Homo sapiens: one gene and its partner. The protein of the gene in region 2 interacts with the protein of the main gene of each other region in a biochemical or structural test. Each region holds a gene or a part of one and is shown on either strand. Other genes may lie near its edges.

Evidence for each region. Proteins that work in one complex are often made in the same cells at the same time.
Region 1: the proteins of CLUAP1 (region 2) and UBXN10 form a complex in vitro, tested with the Homo sapiens proteins (one study listed by BioGRID).

Annotation. Positions count from the first base shown.
Region 1 is NC_000001.11:20,182,072-20,189,095, reverse strand, and holds the start of UBXN10 (UBX domain-containing protein 10), read right to left. Parts: upstream 3,001-7,024; 5' UTR 2,943-3,000; exon of another isoform or gene 476-2,942; intron 1-475. UniProt on the Homo sapiens protein: VCP/p97-binding protein required for ciliogenesis. Acts as a tethering factor that facilitates recruitment of VCP/p97 to the intraflagellar transport complex B (IFT-B) in cilia.
Region 2 is NC_000016.10:3,524,676-3,532,434, forward strand, and holds part of CLUAP1 (clusterin-associated protein 1), read left to right. Parts: intron 1-1,736; coding exon 1,737-1,809; intron 1,810-5,892; coding exon 5,893-6,000; intron 6,001-7,759. UniProt on the Homo sapiens protein: Required for cilia biogenesis. Appears to function within the multiple intraflagellar transport complex B (IFT-B). Key regulator of hedgehog signaling.

The DNA.
Region 1 (7,024 bases), on a different chromosome or scaffold from region 2:
CTACCTTTCTGGCACAAAACTTTCCTCATCTATCAAATTAGCTAAATGATCTTAGAGGTATTACTTAAGTACCTCAGAACATCAGTCTTTTTGTCTGTAACATGAGGATAATAACATGAAATAATGTAGGTAAGGTGGGAAGCACCAGGCTTAGTGCATGGTAGAAACTTAATTAAATGTTAAGCGTTTTTTGTTGTCGTCGTTGTTTGCTTCGGGTTGTCTGTTTAGTGCTTCCTATGTGCTAAGTTCAAAAGCCTTCCTTGTTTTGCTCTAGAACTTTTCCCCGTGTGTCCTCGGTGATTCTACTCCTGGTTAACCAGCTGGGTGAGTCCTGAAACTCATGCCTGCCCTGTCCACTGCACAGAAATGCAGGGAGGTGGACTGCAATGAGCTACCACCTACGCAGTTGCCTCAAAACATGTGAAAATAAAATCCCGAGTTGATCACTTCTCTTCTAATTCCACATTTTACTTACCTCAGATTCACTTCCTGCAGAATGATTTGCACTTCCTGCAAATTCACTCCTTTCATCACAAAATCTTGAACAATGTAATCTGAGCCTCTCAGGGTTTGTATTCTAACCTCACCATTCTGCACATGTAACCACTGCTGCCTAATTTTAAGGAGTATCTGCTTCCTCTCCACTCAGACCAGGACCAAACGCAACACATTATCCCTATATCTTCCTGATGTCCTGCTCAATTCAAAATCTTGGACAAAGCTACCCTCTTTTAAAGGCCTCTATGTCTGCTGCATTCCACTCACAGCCTGAGTCTCTCTCCACTCCCATTTTCCACTTCTCCCTCGTCTTTCACACCCAGTCTGGCTGCTAGTAGCTCAGGAGCCTTCTCCTTAGCAAACTTTTGGCATCAAAAAAGACTGCCCATCTCCTTGTTAATTTCATCTATTTTCTGATCAACTGTGAAGAATGTGTTTTTCCCCCTTTAGTCTCCTTCTCAAGTCTTTCTCTGGCAATTAGCAGCTCTGCACTTTCACTCAGGATGGCAGGAGAAGGTCATAACTGTCCAACTGTTCTGCCAAAGATAAGCTCCACAGGCAAACCCACGCCCCTCTCGGCCCACCCTCCCCACTTGTGGAATGGCTATTAATTTGCCACAGCTTCTACAGAATTATCACAGGCTTGGCTTCCAACACCCACACATGCCTCAGGAAGGTTTAACTGTCAGTGAGTTTGGTAACTTAGAAACCTCTTCCTTAACAACTTTGATGAGGAGAGTCATGTGTTCTCACAGGCTCTCTGTGGGATTATTTTTAACAGTAAAACTTGAGTATGTGCATGCACTTTCTATACCTTTTGGTTCCATATAATTATCCATGTTCAGGGGGTGTCATATTCAAGACACCCTGGTCATAAGATAACATGACTGTGAGCTATCTCAGAGAAAAACCTCAATTATGACTAATTCCTAGGAGCCCACTCATGGTTATTTAGAGACTAACACCTCCTTCAGGTAAAACCATTATATCCAACCTGCTTTCATAACCCACTGCCTCCTCCCGAGCACAGGGACCATCTGTTACACGGAGGGAACACCAGCTCTCCCCAGCACCCATCACACAGGGATGGGCGGTGGGGGAAACAGGTGTTTGGGGATCTGGGCCAACTGTGCCTTTATATTCACACCTCAGGTCCTGAACTCTGCCCACCACCCTCAGTCCAGGATTGAGGCAGCAGCCATGATTCTCCCTGCTCAGTTCACTTCACCACCTCTAGGCCTGGCAGCCACTCAACCACAAACCGATTTGACAAGATCTAGGCGTAGGCATCTATCAAGCTGCCAAGCTGAATAGGCGAGTGGCCTGTTTACTTAAACACAATAGCTGCACCCCAGCGGCCTGCTAGGAGTCAGGAAGCAAACACTGCCAACTGTTTCCAAGAAGTTGCCAGAAGGGCAGGTGCCCATTCCTTAAGATTCACCACCAAATCAACTGGAAAGAAGGAAATGTGGATAGGAGAAGCTAAAGCAGGGCTCCTGCTTTCTAAGGGTGCCCACCACCCACCACAGGGTCAGACCACCCTATTTCACTCACAACCCAAATCTAAGCCTACAGTATATGCAGTAAAATATAACCACCTACATACCATCTGCTGGTATATACCAAGATACATACATTTGAATTGGTCTTTTAAAACTGTATCAGTTAATCCTATCCGTTGCCATCCCGCCCCCCCCAACCCACACCCCCACCAGGCTTTCAGGATAAAAATGCTCTGAAGAACCAACAGGAGATGGTGGTTGGCCTGAGAATGAAAAAACTCTGGTACCATTCCCAGTTCTACCCCAAACTAGGGATTAGAATACACTGTCCTATGCAGAGTGCCACACTGAACCACAAGCCACCAAGTGATCAAATGTTTGGATAGAGAACTGGGGATGATTCCAGCGTCAGAAGGGCAGGGAGGTGGTGGGGATAACTCAATTAAGTCCAAGTTCCAGCGCCCTAGAAGGCAACAGGCTTAAGAGGCAGAGGAGGGATCTGGGGGAGGGGCGAGAAAGAGCGTTTAGAAAGCGAGAATTGACTTCAGAGAAAGAGCACAGGACTGGGGGAGGGGCCCTCTGGTTCTCGTCTCTGCCCTGCCGGAGACTGGGACATCCTTTTCTCTCCCTGGGTCTGTGTCCCCGTCGCTACATCCCAGCCTGGAGGGCATGGCCCAGCGGTTGCATAGGTCCCTCGGTTTCTGCAGAGCCCGGGAGTCACCCTATTTTGGTAAAGGTGAGCTCTGGCCAGGCTTGCTTTGCCTCGGGAGCAGACTTTTCTCCAGGCTCCTCGCCTGTCTCCCGGGGTTTGCGTCCCCCGGGCTGGGTCTGGGGAGGCCCTCCCGGGTGATGTGCTGGGGTCTCGGGGACTGGCCTCCCCCGGCCCCTTCCAGGCCTGGCGGAGGCCAAGGGCAGGCCGCGGGATCGGGCAGCCGCTCTCACCTAGCCGTTCCGCTCCATCCGCCGCCTGCGCCCGGGCTCTGTCCTGCTGGTAAACAACCCTGGTCTCCCGGGCAACGCCGCAGGGTGGGGGGCCACGTGCTTCCGGCGTGACCGGAACCGGCCTGGGTCGGGTGGGGTCGGGTGGGGTCGGGTGGGGGCCGCTGGGCCAGGAGGGCGGAGGCCGTGAACTCCAGGTCGGTGGATTGCGAGCCTGGAGTGGATTGCCTGGCCTGGAGGCGACAGGGACCCGCGGCCTCCTTCTCTCCTCCTCTTCCTAGCGTCACCGCCTCTGTTTCTCTCTGGGGGAGAGTGTCTGGGAGAGGGAGAGCCCTGGCCGGGGCATGGAGGAGCGGGGAGCAGCACCACTAGTCTCAAAATCCGTTTCTCACCTTGGGTCAGGCCCTGACCCTCTCAGTGTCCCTGGTTTTAAAATGAGGCTGTGGGACTGATGGATTCTCGGAACCCTAAACTCTGAGTGGATGCTTCTAGGGTATCTGAGTTGCGGGGAGCAGGGCCCCCATCCTCAGTACAGCCCTTTCAGCGCCAGTTCCCTGACCTCTTTTCACATCAGCCTCCCACTCCGGGGCCACACTGGGAACCTTATCAACAGCATCTGCACCTCCTTTGATGTCCCCAGCCACAATCTCTTCCACTTCCAGCCACTTGAGTCACTTCCGCTGTATCTGTTTTTCACCATCTTTGGGTTTCCTGTCCATTGCTGTCTCCGCTTTCCCCCTCGATATCAATCTGCTTCTTCCCTATCCTGGCCCATTACCTCGGCATTCTCAAAAGGATCCTCCCTGCCCGAGTCCTACTCTCCTTCCATCTGATGAAACCTGAAGCCAAACCAGTCCACCTACACACGGGTATTGAAGAAGTCTTGGCCAGCCACACACCTTGGTGTAACAGAAACACGAGGTCTCTAACCTCAGTTAGACTCTCAGCCCTGCACTTCCATCCCCAACCGACCACTGGGTTCTCTCTCCCTCCTTTCTTCTTTTTCTTCCTTTTTTAAGGGGAGACAGGGTCTCGCCCCTTCACCCAGGCTGGAGTGCAGTGGTGCAATCACAGCTCACTGCAGCCTGGACCTCCCCAGCTCAGCCTCCCTTGTAGCTGGGACTACAGGCGTGCACCACCATGCTTGGCTAATTTTTATTATTTTTTGTAGAATGGGGTTCTGCCATGTTGCTGAGGGTGGTCTTGAAGTCTTGGGCTCAAGTGATCCTCCCGCCTCAGCCTCCCAAAGTGCTGAGATTACAGACATGAGCCACCTCGCCCAGCCTCTCCTTTCTTCTCAATGGCTATTTCAAAACGTTGTTTTGCTTGCGAAACCTCCCACCTCTCCCTCTCCCACCTCCCTCCCTCCTCCCTCTTAGAAGATACCTTTACTGCCCTCTTCAGAGAGAAAATAGAAGCCATCATATGGAAACTTCCTCAGCCTTCTGCCATCAGACCTGCAAACTTGCCTGCCTACACTTCCTTGCTTTCCTCCCTCCCTCCAGTTCTAATGTCTTCTGATTCTCTCCAAGGTGAATTGCTCCTCCATGGGTCGTGAAAGAAGATCATGTCAGTGGTGGTGTTTCTGCTCGTCTCAGAAGGGAAGTCTGTGACCCGTGGGAGTTGCTGGGGAGGGCCTGGTCTGGGCCAGGCCTCTTCTTTGGGTTGCCCCCTCACACACTCTGGTCATCCAGGAAGCCTCTGTGGCCCTCGGAATGTGTAAAAGATGGTGGTTTTAGGAGCTGCTGGTTTTGCAACTGAGTGCTGACGGCTTATTTCTTGTTAATGATTCTGTCAAAAGTGTCTTAGCGATGCTCTTCAGCCCTTCATCACCCACCCAAAAAAGATTAAAGTGGATTCTTCATCAGCTATTTTAAAATCACCTAAGAATTATACAATCCTTTGGAGAATCAAATTGGCTTCTCACCGTGTGTGTGTGTGTGTGTGTGTGTGTGTGTGCGTGTGCGCACGCACGCGCGCCTTTGCCAGTGCACAGTGAAATGGCGGTCTGTTTAATGTCAGCAGTACATGCAGTTAACGTCAGCAGTACCTGCCTTTTGCTCTCCAGTGTTGTGTAATGCCCAGCCCCAGGGGGAGGCAGGAGAGGAGGAAAGGAAGGCGCCAGTCCATTGCTGTGCCTCTGCTGCCTTTGTGCCCGACCTTCTATAAAGAGGATGTCTTCAAAGGACAGACCTGATAATGCCTGGTGTCTGGCACATACCCAGAGTGGATCTCAGTAAACATGGGCAGAGGTCATTGCCCTGCCAGCTGAAATGTGGACTCACCTTCCTTTCTAGCCATGTCCCAATCTACTCTCCAGCTCTCTCCCTGGGCTGCAGCCAGCTTGCTCCCCAGATGGGCCCCAGCTTTTTCATCTCCAGTGTCTTTGCCCATGCCTGCCCCACCCTGCTCTCTTCCTTGAAGTTAAGCCAAAATGACTGATCCTTCAAGGCCCATCTTAAAAGCCACCTCTTCCGTGAAGCCCTTTCCTGACCACAGCCTCCCCACAAAAGCTCATGTGCTCTCTCTGGTCGCCTTTGGTCCAGTGGAACATGCCCAAGATGGTGCTGTGCACCCTCCCTAGGTCGGCTCCCTTCATCTTCACAACGCTCCTTAATGGAGGCATCATAGCCCTCCTTTGCTTTAGAAAACAGTGGAGCCTCAGGGTTCCCCCTGGTGAAGGAGCAGCAGAGCAATTTTACAACCTGCATCCAGCAGTTTCCAAAGCCCACCCTGGACCCCAGAGTCCCACCCCCAAGCTCCTCACCTGCGTGTTCCCCCATGGCCCTTATCTGTGCTGTCCGTTGCACTGGTCGTGGGGACTGCAGGCATGGCCTCTGACGTCAAAGCTTGAGTATCAATCCTGGCTCCACCACTTGCCAGCTGAAGACGTTAGGTAAATGATTTACCTTCGCTGGATGTCAGTTTCCGCATCTCTAGAATGGTGATGATAAGCACAGGATTGTTGTGCGGCTGAAATGAGGTAACACACGTGCCAAGTGCTTAGTGAGGGCTACTAACTCTTGTTGCATCATCTTCACTTACAGTGTACATCTCCTTCAGTAGGTTATGAGCTCCTTGAAGGCAGGAACTTGCCTGTCTCGGAATCCCCTGCCTTGTCCACACAATGCTTACTTTGTGATACGTGCTCGGCAATGATGATGGTGGTGCTGATTCCAAGGCTAGCGTTTCCACTGAGCGATCCAGCAAGCTGCTAACTGGTATCCTCCCCAACCATATTTGGCTTGGGGTCCAAATGACCTCCCCAGGGGCTTGCTGAAGGCGGGGGCCCCGGTTTCTTAGCGGCTTGTCCCCACAGAGTGTTTGGCCCCATTTTGAATTAGTGATTTCTAGATTTCAGAGTCTATAGCCAGTGTCCTGCTCTGCCTGTCCTTGGTCTCATTAGACATGTGGATTGAGATCATGGATAACCTTTAAGCAGAAGGTGAACCAGGTGGATATTCTAGTAGCAAGGCCAAGAGGCTGGCAGTTAGTCATGGCTCCTGTGATCAGCTTCCTAAGGGGATCTGCAAGAGGGAAGTTTCTGGATGATGAAACTTAACCCTTGAAGTACAGACATGGGTCACTTAACCATGGGGATACATGCTGACAACTTCATTGCTAGGTGATTTTTTCATTGTGCAAACATTGTGGAGTGTGCTTACCCAAACCTAGATGGTCTAGCCTGCTACACACCTAGGTTATATGGTATAGCCTGTTGCTCCTAGGCCACAAACCTGTACAGCATGTTGCCGTTCTAAATACTGTAACACAATGGCAATTGTAACACAATAGTAAGTATTTGTGTATCCAAACAGATCTAAACATAGAAAAGGTACAATTTAAAATATGGTATAAAAGATAAAAAAAATGGTATGCCTATATAGCGCAGCTACCTTATAATCTTATGGGACCACCATCGTATGTGTGGTCTGTCATTGGACCAAAATGTCATTATATGGTGCATGACTGTACCACAGCTTTTTATTATTTTCCCCGTATTGTTGGAAAATATCCAAAAATGTATAGCCTGCTTTCCAGTCTTGTTAAGCAGAACACATCAAACACTGTAACTCACCTTGGCT
Region 2 (7,759 bases):
TTGTTTTGTAAAGAGGAATGGCAGTTTATTTATTGATTGTGGGAAATAAATGTGTGGCCTTGAGCCTGACCAACCATCTTACAGGTTCCTCTCATCCCTGTGGGTAAGGCCATTTAGGAAAAGAGTGTTTTAGACCCGAGCATGAGTTGATAAATGTGGAATTTAGAGCAAAGGAAATTGAACCAAGTTGTGATCAGTTTTTGAATTGCCCTATCCTTAACCTGAGAATGGTCATTTAGACTCCATTTTCATGATGAAATTGGTCTGCAGTCTCCCTTTCTCATGCCCTTGACAGCTTTTGGTATTAAGGTTATGCTAGGCTTCTTACAATACTGAGCATTTGAGTTTGGCAGAGCTATTTTGTTGTCCAGGAGGGCTAACTGGGAGTACCTAACGCATCCGTGTGGACACATGTCATCTTGACGAGGAATTCATTGCTAGCATTACTCTGTGGCAGAGGCAGGCCATGGAGAAATGGTACGGGACAGGCACATTTCGAGGGCACTAGAAAGAGCTTGGAGTTTAGAACATTTTAAACATTGGGTACCTGGGAAAGAACAGTCAAGGGCAGTGAAAAGAAACGTTGGCCATTTTTTTGTATTATCTGGGGCCACCTCTGGGTTCAGAGAACAAACCAAACAGTATGCCTCAGAGTGGCAGGTAGGTGGCCCAGGAAACTTCCCAGGGAGCCCCTCTACCCTACCCTTCCTTCAACAAGTACATCTCTTTTTCTCTTACTCACTCTCGCTCTCTGTCGTTAGAATACCTGTTCCCTCGAAATACCCCATGCCGGAAACACAGTGCTTTATTTTTAATGTTTAGAACAACAATATATAAAGCCAACTTCCTCCCTCTGTCTGTCCCTCCCCCCCACTCTCTCTCTTTGTCTCTTTCTCTTTCTCAACGGGGTCTCACTCTGTTGCCTGCCACTCTGTCTGGAGGGCAGGGTGTGATTATAACTCACTGTAGCTTCAGACCTCTTGGGCTCAAGCGATCCTCCCACCTCAGCTTCTTGAGTAGCTGGGACTATAGGCACTTGCCACCATACCTGGCTAAATTTTTTAAATTTGTTGTAGAGATGAGGTTTCCCTATGTTGCCCAGGCTGGTCTCAAACTCCTGGGCTCAAGTGATCCTCCTGCCTTGGCCTCCCAAAGCGTGGGGGTTACAGGTGTGAGCCACCACGCCCAGCCCCCATTCTCTTTCTTGATAATAATCAAGGCCACATTTTATGATCTGAGATATTTCCTCCTGTCCCCACCCCTGTTCCCATCCTTACCTGTCCCACCATTTAGCATCTTTTGAGCTGGAATCTGAAGGCAGGGCAGGAAAGATAAATGATAAAATCTATACTTTCTTCCTTTGAAAGCAGGAGGCCTGTCTCTGCCCTAAAATTAGATGTGTCTGTTCTGTGTCCCCAGGTCATACAGGCATGCGTGATGGGCATTTAGTTCTCCTCAGAGGCAGGGAAATGCAATCGGAGAAGCATGGGGTGGGGCAGCTGCTTCACTCTGGGCGCCCCTGTCCACCAGGCCACGAGGCAACCGCAGAGAGAAAGGGCAGTAAGTTTCAGGACCCTGGAGTTGCTCAGGCAGTGTTAATTCTCTTCCCCTTCCTTGAGTTTAGCTCTTTTTTTGTTCTGTAGCACAAACTTAGCAGTCCTTACACAGTGGTGAAGAAGAATAGAACAGTCCAGAAAAGGGCCATCTCTCCTGAGTCTGTATTTCCTCTTCCACAGGAAGCTAAAAACACTCTCTGCCTGATACAGAACAAGCTCAAGGAGGAAGAGAAGCGCCTGCTCAAGAGTGGAAGTAAGGCTGGGCTTCGTAGACGAGCAGTTTACTCTGGACTAGTATTTTCAGCCTTGAAATATATATAGAGAGATATATATATATTTTTTAATATGTATTTTCTTCTTTTTTTCAGCAGTTTTTTTTTTACTGTAGTAAGAACACTTCACTTTACATCTTCAATTTTGAAAAGTATAATAAATTATTGTTGACTATAGGTACAAAAATATTTTCAAAAGGCGGTTTTCTCACAACTTCTATATTGGGTACCATTGTATTCACTCAAGAGTCTGGTTTAAATATAGCATTTAAAACACATTTCGTTCTTGTGCCAGTTAAGATAGTGTTTTCCCCTGTTTAAATGATAGTTTGAATTATATATGATGCGTAACTATAAGAAAACATGGCCCTAGATGTGTGTAGGGTTCTGTATTTTCAGGCTGAATGATGGAAAGCAAGCACTGGGATGCAGTGCAGGGAGAGGGGCCGCTCGCTTTGTGATGGTCCCCATGCTGCTGAGATGCCCCCCATAATCCAGAATGGCTCAGCAAGACACTCAGCTGGAGAGACACAGGGTTACGTCCATGCAAAGCCTAGATTCCGGGAAGGAGCTCTCTGTGACCAGGCAGCTTCCCTTATCCTTGTGTGGGCGGCAAGCCGCCCAGGTGCCGAGGCAAGAGACCGAGAGCACGAGCTGTTCCAGTATAATAAAATATATAAAATAAGAATAGTTATACTAGATATAGATCATAGATATGATTATATATGAATATCATTAATCATTAGTTTATAGCAATTACTCTTTATTCCAATATCATAATAATCCTCGCTCTACAATCATAACCTAGGAAAAAACAGGCCATACAGATATAGGAGCTGAGGGGACATGGTGAGAAGTGACCAGAAGACAAGAGTGCAAACCTTCTGTTATGCCCAGACAGGGCCACCAGAGGGCTCCTTGGTCTAGTGGGAACACCAGCGTCTGGGAAGCCGCCCGTTGCCAAGTGGACCGTGGTCTAGTGGTAGCGTCAGTGTCAAGGAAAAACACCTGCTACTTAGCAGACCAGGAAAGGGAGTCTCCCTTTCCCCGGGGGAGTTTAGAGAAGACTTTACTCCTCCACCTCTTGTGGAGGGCCTGACATCAGTCAGGCCCGCCCGCAGTTATCCGGAGGCCTAACCATCTCCCGGTGATACTGTGCTTCAGTGGTCATGCTCCTAGTCTGCCTTCATGTTCTGTCCTGTACACCTGGCTCTGCCTTTTAGATAGTAGTAGCAAATTAGTGGAAGTACTAAAAGTCTCTGATAAGCAGAAATAATGGCGTAAGCTGTCTCTCTCTCCTCTCTGTCTCTCTGCCTCAGCTGCCAGGCAGGGAAGGGCCCCCTGTCCAGTGGATACGTGACCCATGTGACCTTACCTATCACTGAAGATGGCTCACTCTCCTTACCCTGCCCCTTTGTCTTGTATCCAATAAATATCAGCACAGCCTGGCATTCAGGGCCACTATCAGTCTCCACGTCTTCGTGGTAGTGGTCCCCCAAGCCCGGCTGTCTTTTCTTTTATCTCTTTGTCTTGTGTCTTTATTTCTACAGTCTCTCATCTCTGCACATGGGGAGAAAACCCACCGACCCTGTGGGGCTGTACCCTACATCCCTGAACTTCAGTGTCAAGTCACTGTCAGGGACCGGTAGCAGCCCAGGATCTTCCTGCTGAATTGATGGCCTTGTTGCACGGAGTTCCTCCTCCTCTTGCTGGTTGCCCTTTCTTTTCTTCAGGGTGAAATATTCTATTCACTCTCATGTTGAGGGCAGCATACTTGAGGCATCAGGCCCACACACATGCTCCCACACACACTCTCTCTCTCTCTCTTTCTCTTTCTTTGCCATTTCCCTTGTATCTCTCTCATTTTGCACCTGTTCTGTGACTCTCTCGTCTGAATCTCAGGAAACTTTGGAGGAAGGATAGGGACTGCTGGGAAATCCTCCAGGAACAAGGTTAGGAAATTTGAAGGGCCTGTCTAGCCAAAGCAGCCCTCCCCTTTTTAGTTCCATGTCAGCCAGGAGCATGTGAAGCAGCCCTCAGTGATCAGCCTGCATGGGGTTTGTCCCTTGCGAGAGGCCCAGCTCAGCTAGGAGCCCTGGTTTGTTGCTTGCATCCCATGCTGTCCCCGGGCCAGGATGCTAAGACCTGCCATTCTGATCTTGCTTTATTCACCAAGATTTACCTTTGTGTTTTCTTCTAGGAGTTCTATAGTTTTAGCTCTTACATTTAGGTCTCTGATCCACTTTGAGTTAATTTTTGTATATGGTGTGAGACAGGGGGTCCAACTTCATTCTTTTGCATGTGGCTATTCGGTTGTCCTATTATCATTTGTGGAAAAGACTATTATTTCCCCATTGAGTTATACTCGCATGTTGTCAGCCATTAATTTTAATTGTCACTGTCAGCTCAGTGGTTTCAGTGTCAGCATGCATTAATGTCTTAGTCTGTTTTGTGCTGCTGTAACAGAATACCTGAGACTGGGTAATTATATATTTTACATAAAATATATACAGCATTGTATATATGGATACATGCAGTCATCCCTCAATATCTGCGAAGAACTGGTGCCAGAACCCACCTGTGGATACCAAAATCCACAGATGTTCAAGTCCTTTTCATGTAACCTATGCACATCCTCCCATATACTTTAAGTCATCTCTAGATTACATAAAATACCTAACATAATGCCTATACATCACTTCATTCACATGGATTCAACATAGTACTTGGTATGTGGCAAATTCAAGTTTTGCTTTTTGGAACTTTGTAGATCTTTTTTGAACTTTGTAGATTTTTTTTCCAAATAATTCAGATCCATGGTTGGCTGAACCCATGGATGTGAAATCCATGGATACAGAGGGCCAGTTTTGTATGTGTGTGTGTGTGTGTGTAGTTTATATATATATGTCATATATATTATTATATATAATATATATTATATTATATATTATTATATATAATATATATTATATTATATATTATATAATTATATTATATTATATATATTATATAATTATATATTATTATATGTTATATATTATTATATATTATATATTATTATATATTATATATTATATAATATTATATATTATTATATATTATATATTATATAATATTATATATTATATATTATTATATATTATATATTATTATATATTATATATTATTATATATTATATATTATTATATATTATATATTATATATTATATAATATTATATATTATATATATTATTATATATTATATATTATATAATATATATTATATTATTATATATTATATAATATATATTATATTATTATATATATATTATAATATAATATATTATATAATATATTATATAATATATATTTTATAATATAATTTATAATTTATAAATTTATATTTATAATTATATATGTTATATAGTTATATATTATTATATATAATAATATATGACAATTATATAACATATATAATATATTAGTATTAGGTTATATTATTATCATTATAATCAGAAACTTACTTGTCTGAAATTTAATGAGCCACAGTTCTAGGAGCAAGCCCAAGATCAAGGAGCTGCATCTTGCCGCACCATCCCATGGCAGAAGGGCAAAGAGAGGGCGAGAGAGAGCAAGAGATCAAACTCACAGCCTCAAGCCCTTTTATAACCAGCATTAATCCATTCTTCAAGGCGGAGCCCTCATGACCTAAACACCTCCCAGTATGCCCCACCTCCCAACACTGTTGCATTGGGATTTAAGTTTCCAACACAGGCTTTTCGGAGACACATTGAAATCATATAATAGCAATTGACTTTAGTTTACCTGCTCACTTCTCAGGTCTGTATTGGTTTGAGTTGTAAGAAGAAATCTTATTGAGCCTGAGGTACATGTATTAATTTTATTTTAAAATTGATTATATAATTTGATTTGCATTGCATGGGATAAGGATTTAATGTCTTAATTTCCTGGATAGAATAAGAAATGAACAAATGACTTTTGCACACAGACCTTACTGGGCAGAGCTGTTTCGTTGTGATCATGAAGCCACTCCTTTGTTTTGCCTGCTTGTGTTCCTGCTAGGTAACGATGACTCGGACATAGACATCCAGGAGGACGATGAATCCGACAGTGAGTTGGAAGAAAGGCGGCTGCCCAAGCCACAGACAGCCATGGAGATGCTCATGCAAGGTACCCCGGCGTCTTTCGCTGGACTTCCTCCCTGCGCCCTGTTTCACAGAACACCTGGCCAGGACTGGGGCAGGCTGCTTAGTATTGAGGCCCACAAGCGTGCTGCGAATGGCCCCTAGAAGCAGCTCTTGCTCAGGTTTATCCTGTCCTGTTGTTTATGGCTCTTGAACTGCTCAGTGGTCATGTTTGCTCCTTGTCTGTGATCCCAAGACTGGATGGTTCATATTTATGGCTTGGTATTTCTCACAGCCACAAGAACACATTGCCTCTGCCACTCTCAGTGCAGTGATATACTTAATAGCCTGAGAATTAATGCAGAAAGGGACTTAAATGAGCATCTCTGCCTTAAAAAAAGTTCTTCTAATTCCTTTACTCATCACAAAAGATTCAAGCAACAAAGCTCAGCGCAGTGGTGCACACCTTATTCCCAGCTACTCAGGAGGCTGAGGCAGAAGGATCATTTGAGCCTAGGAGCTCGGAGCTGTAGTATGTGATGATTGTGTCCGTGAATATCCACTGCATTCCGGCCCGGGCAACATAGAGGGGCTCTTAAAACTAAGTTAAGCCAGGCGCGGTGGCTCACGCCTGTAATCCCAGCACTTTGGGAGGCCAAGGCGGGTGGATCACGAGGTCAAGAGATCGAGACCATCCTGGCTAACACGGTGAAACCCCGTCTCTACTAAAAATAAAAAAAAAATTAGTTGGGCGCAATGGCGGGCGCCCATAGTCCCAGCTACTCGGGAGGCTGAGACAGGAGAATGGTGTGAACCCAGGAGGCGGAGCTTGCAGTGAGCCGAGATCACGCCACTGCACTCCAGCCTGGGCGACAGAGTGAGACTCCGTCTCAAAAAAAAAAAAAGAGTTAAAACAAAAAAAGACTCAGGCAACAAAATTTGTAGAGCAAATGTGAATTCTCTCCTGGGGTCTTCCTCATGTCCCACTCCCACCTGGGAGGGCTCATGGCTAGTGGCCAGGGTGGGTGTGTCTTTACAGATTACCTTTCTGTACATATACATACGCACACACATACACATACAAAGATCACCTGAAAAAAATTTAACCTGAGTGCAACCAGACGGTATGTATGGTTCTGCAACTTGCTTTTGTTTTTAAAAATTAAGTACAATTGGAACTCTTCCTCTGTCAGCAATAGATCTGCCCCCTAATTTTTTTTTTTTTTCTTTTTGAGACAAAGTCTCGCTCTTGGTCCCCAGGTTGGAGTGCAATGGCATGATCTTGGCTCACTGCAACCTCTGCTTCCCGGAGGGAGCAATTCTCCTGCAATCCCAAGTAGCTGGGGTTACAGGCCCGTGCCACCACACCCAGCTAATTTTTGTATTTTTAGTAGAGACGGGGTTTCACCATGTTGGCCAGGCTGGTCTCGAACTCCCAACCTCAGGTGATCCACCCGCCTCGGCCTCCCAAAGTGCTGGGATTACAGGCCTGAGCCACCACTCCTGGCCTGCCCCCTACTTTTTAATGGCTATGTCATATTCCTAGCAGGACTGTACCCATGATTTACTGGGCGTTCTCGCATTGATATTTCCCCTCTTTTCCTTGTATATACATCTTTCTGCATGTCTGCATATCTTTAGGTTGCATCATTAAAAGTCAAATTCTTAGGTCAAAGGTTCCATAAATTTTTATTTTAATACTATAAAATTCTCCTATATTTGCCTTTAAAAACATTTCTTATCTACCACCTGTTAATGTTTGGAGCACAGTTGCTTTTTTTTTTTTTTTTTTTTTTTTTTTTGGA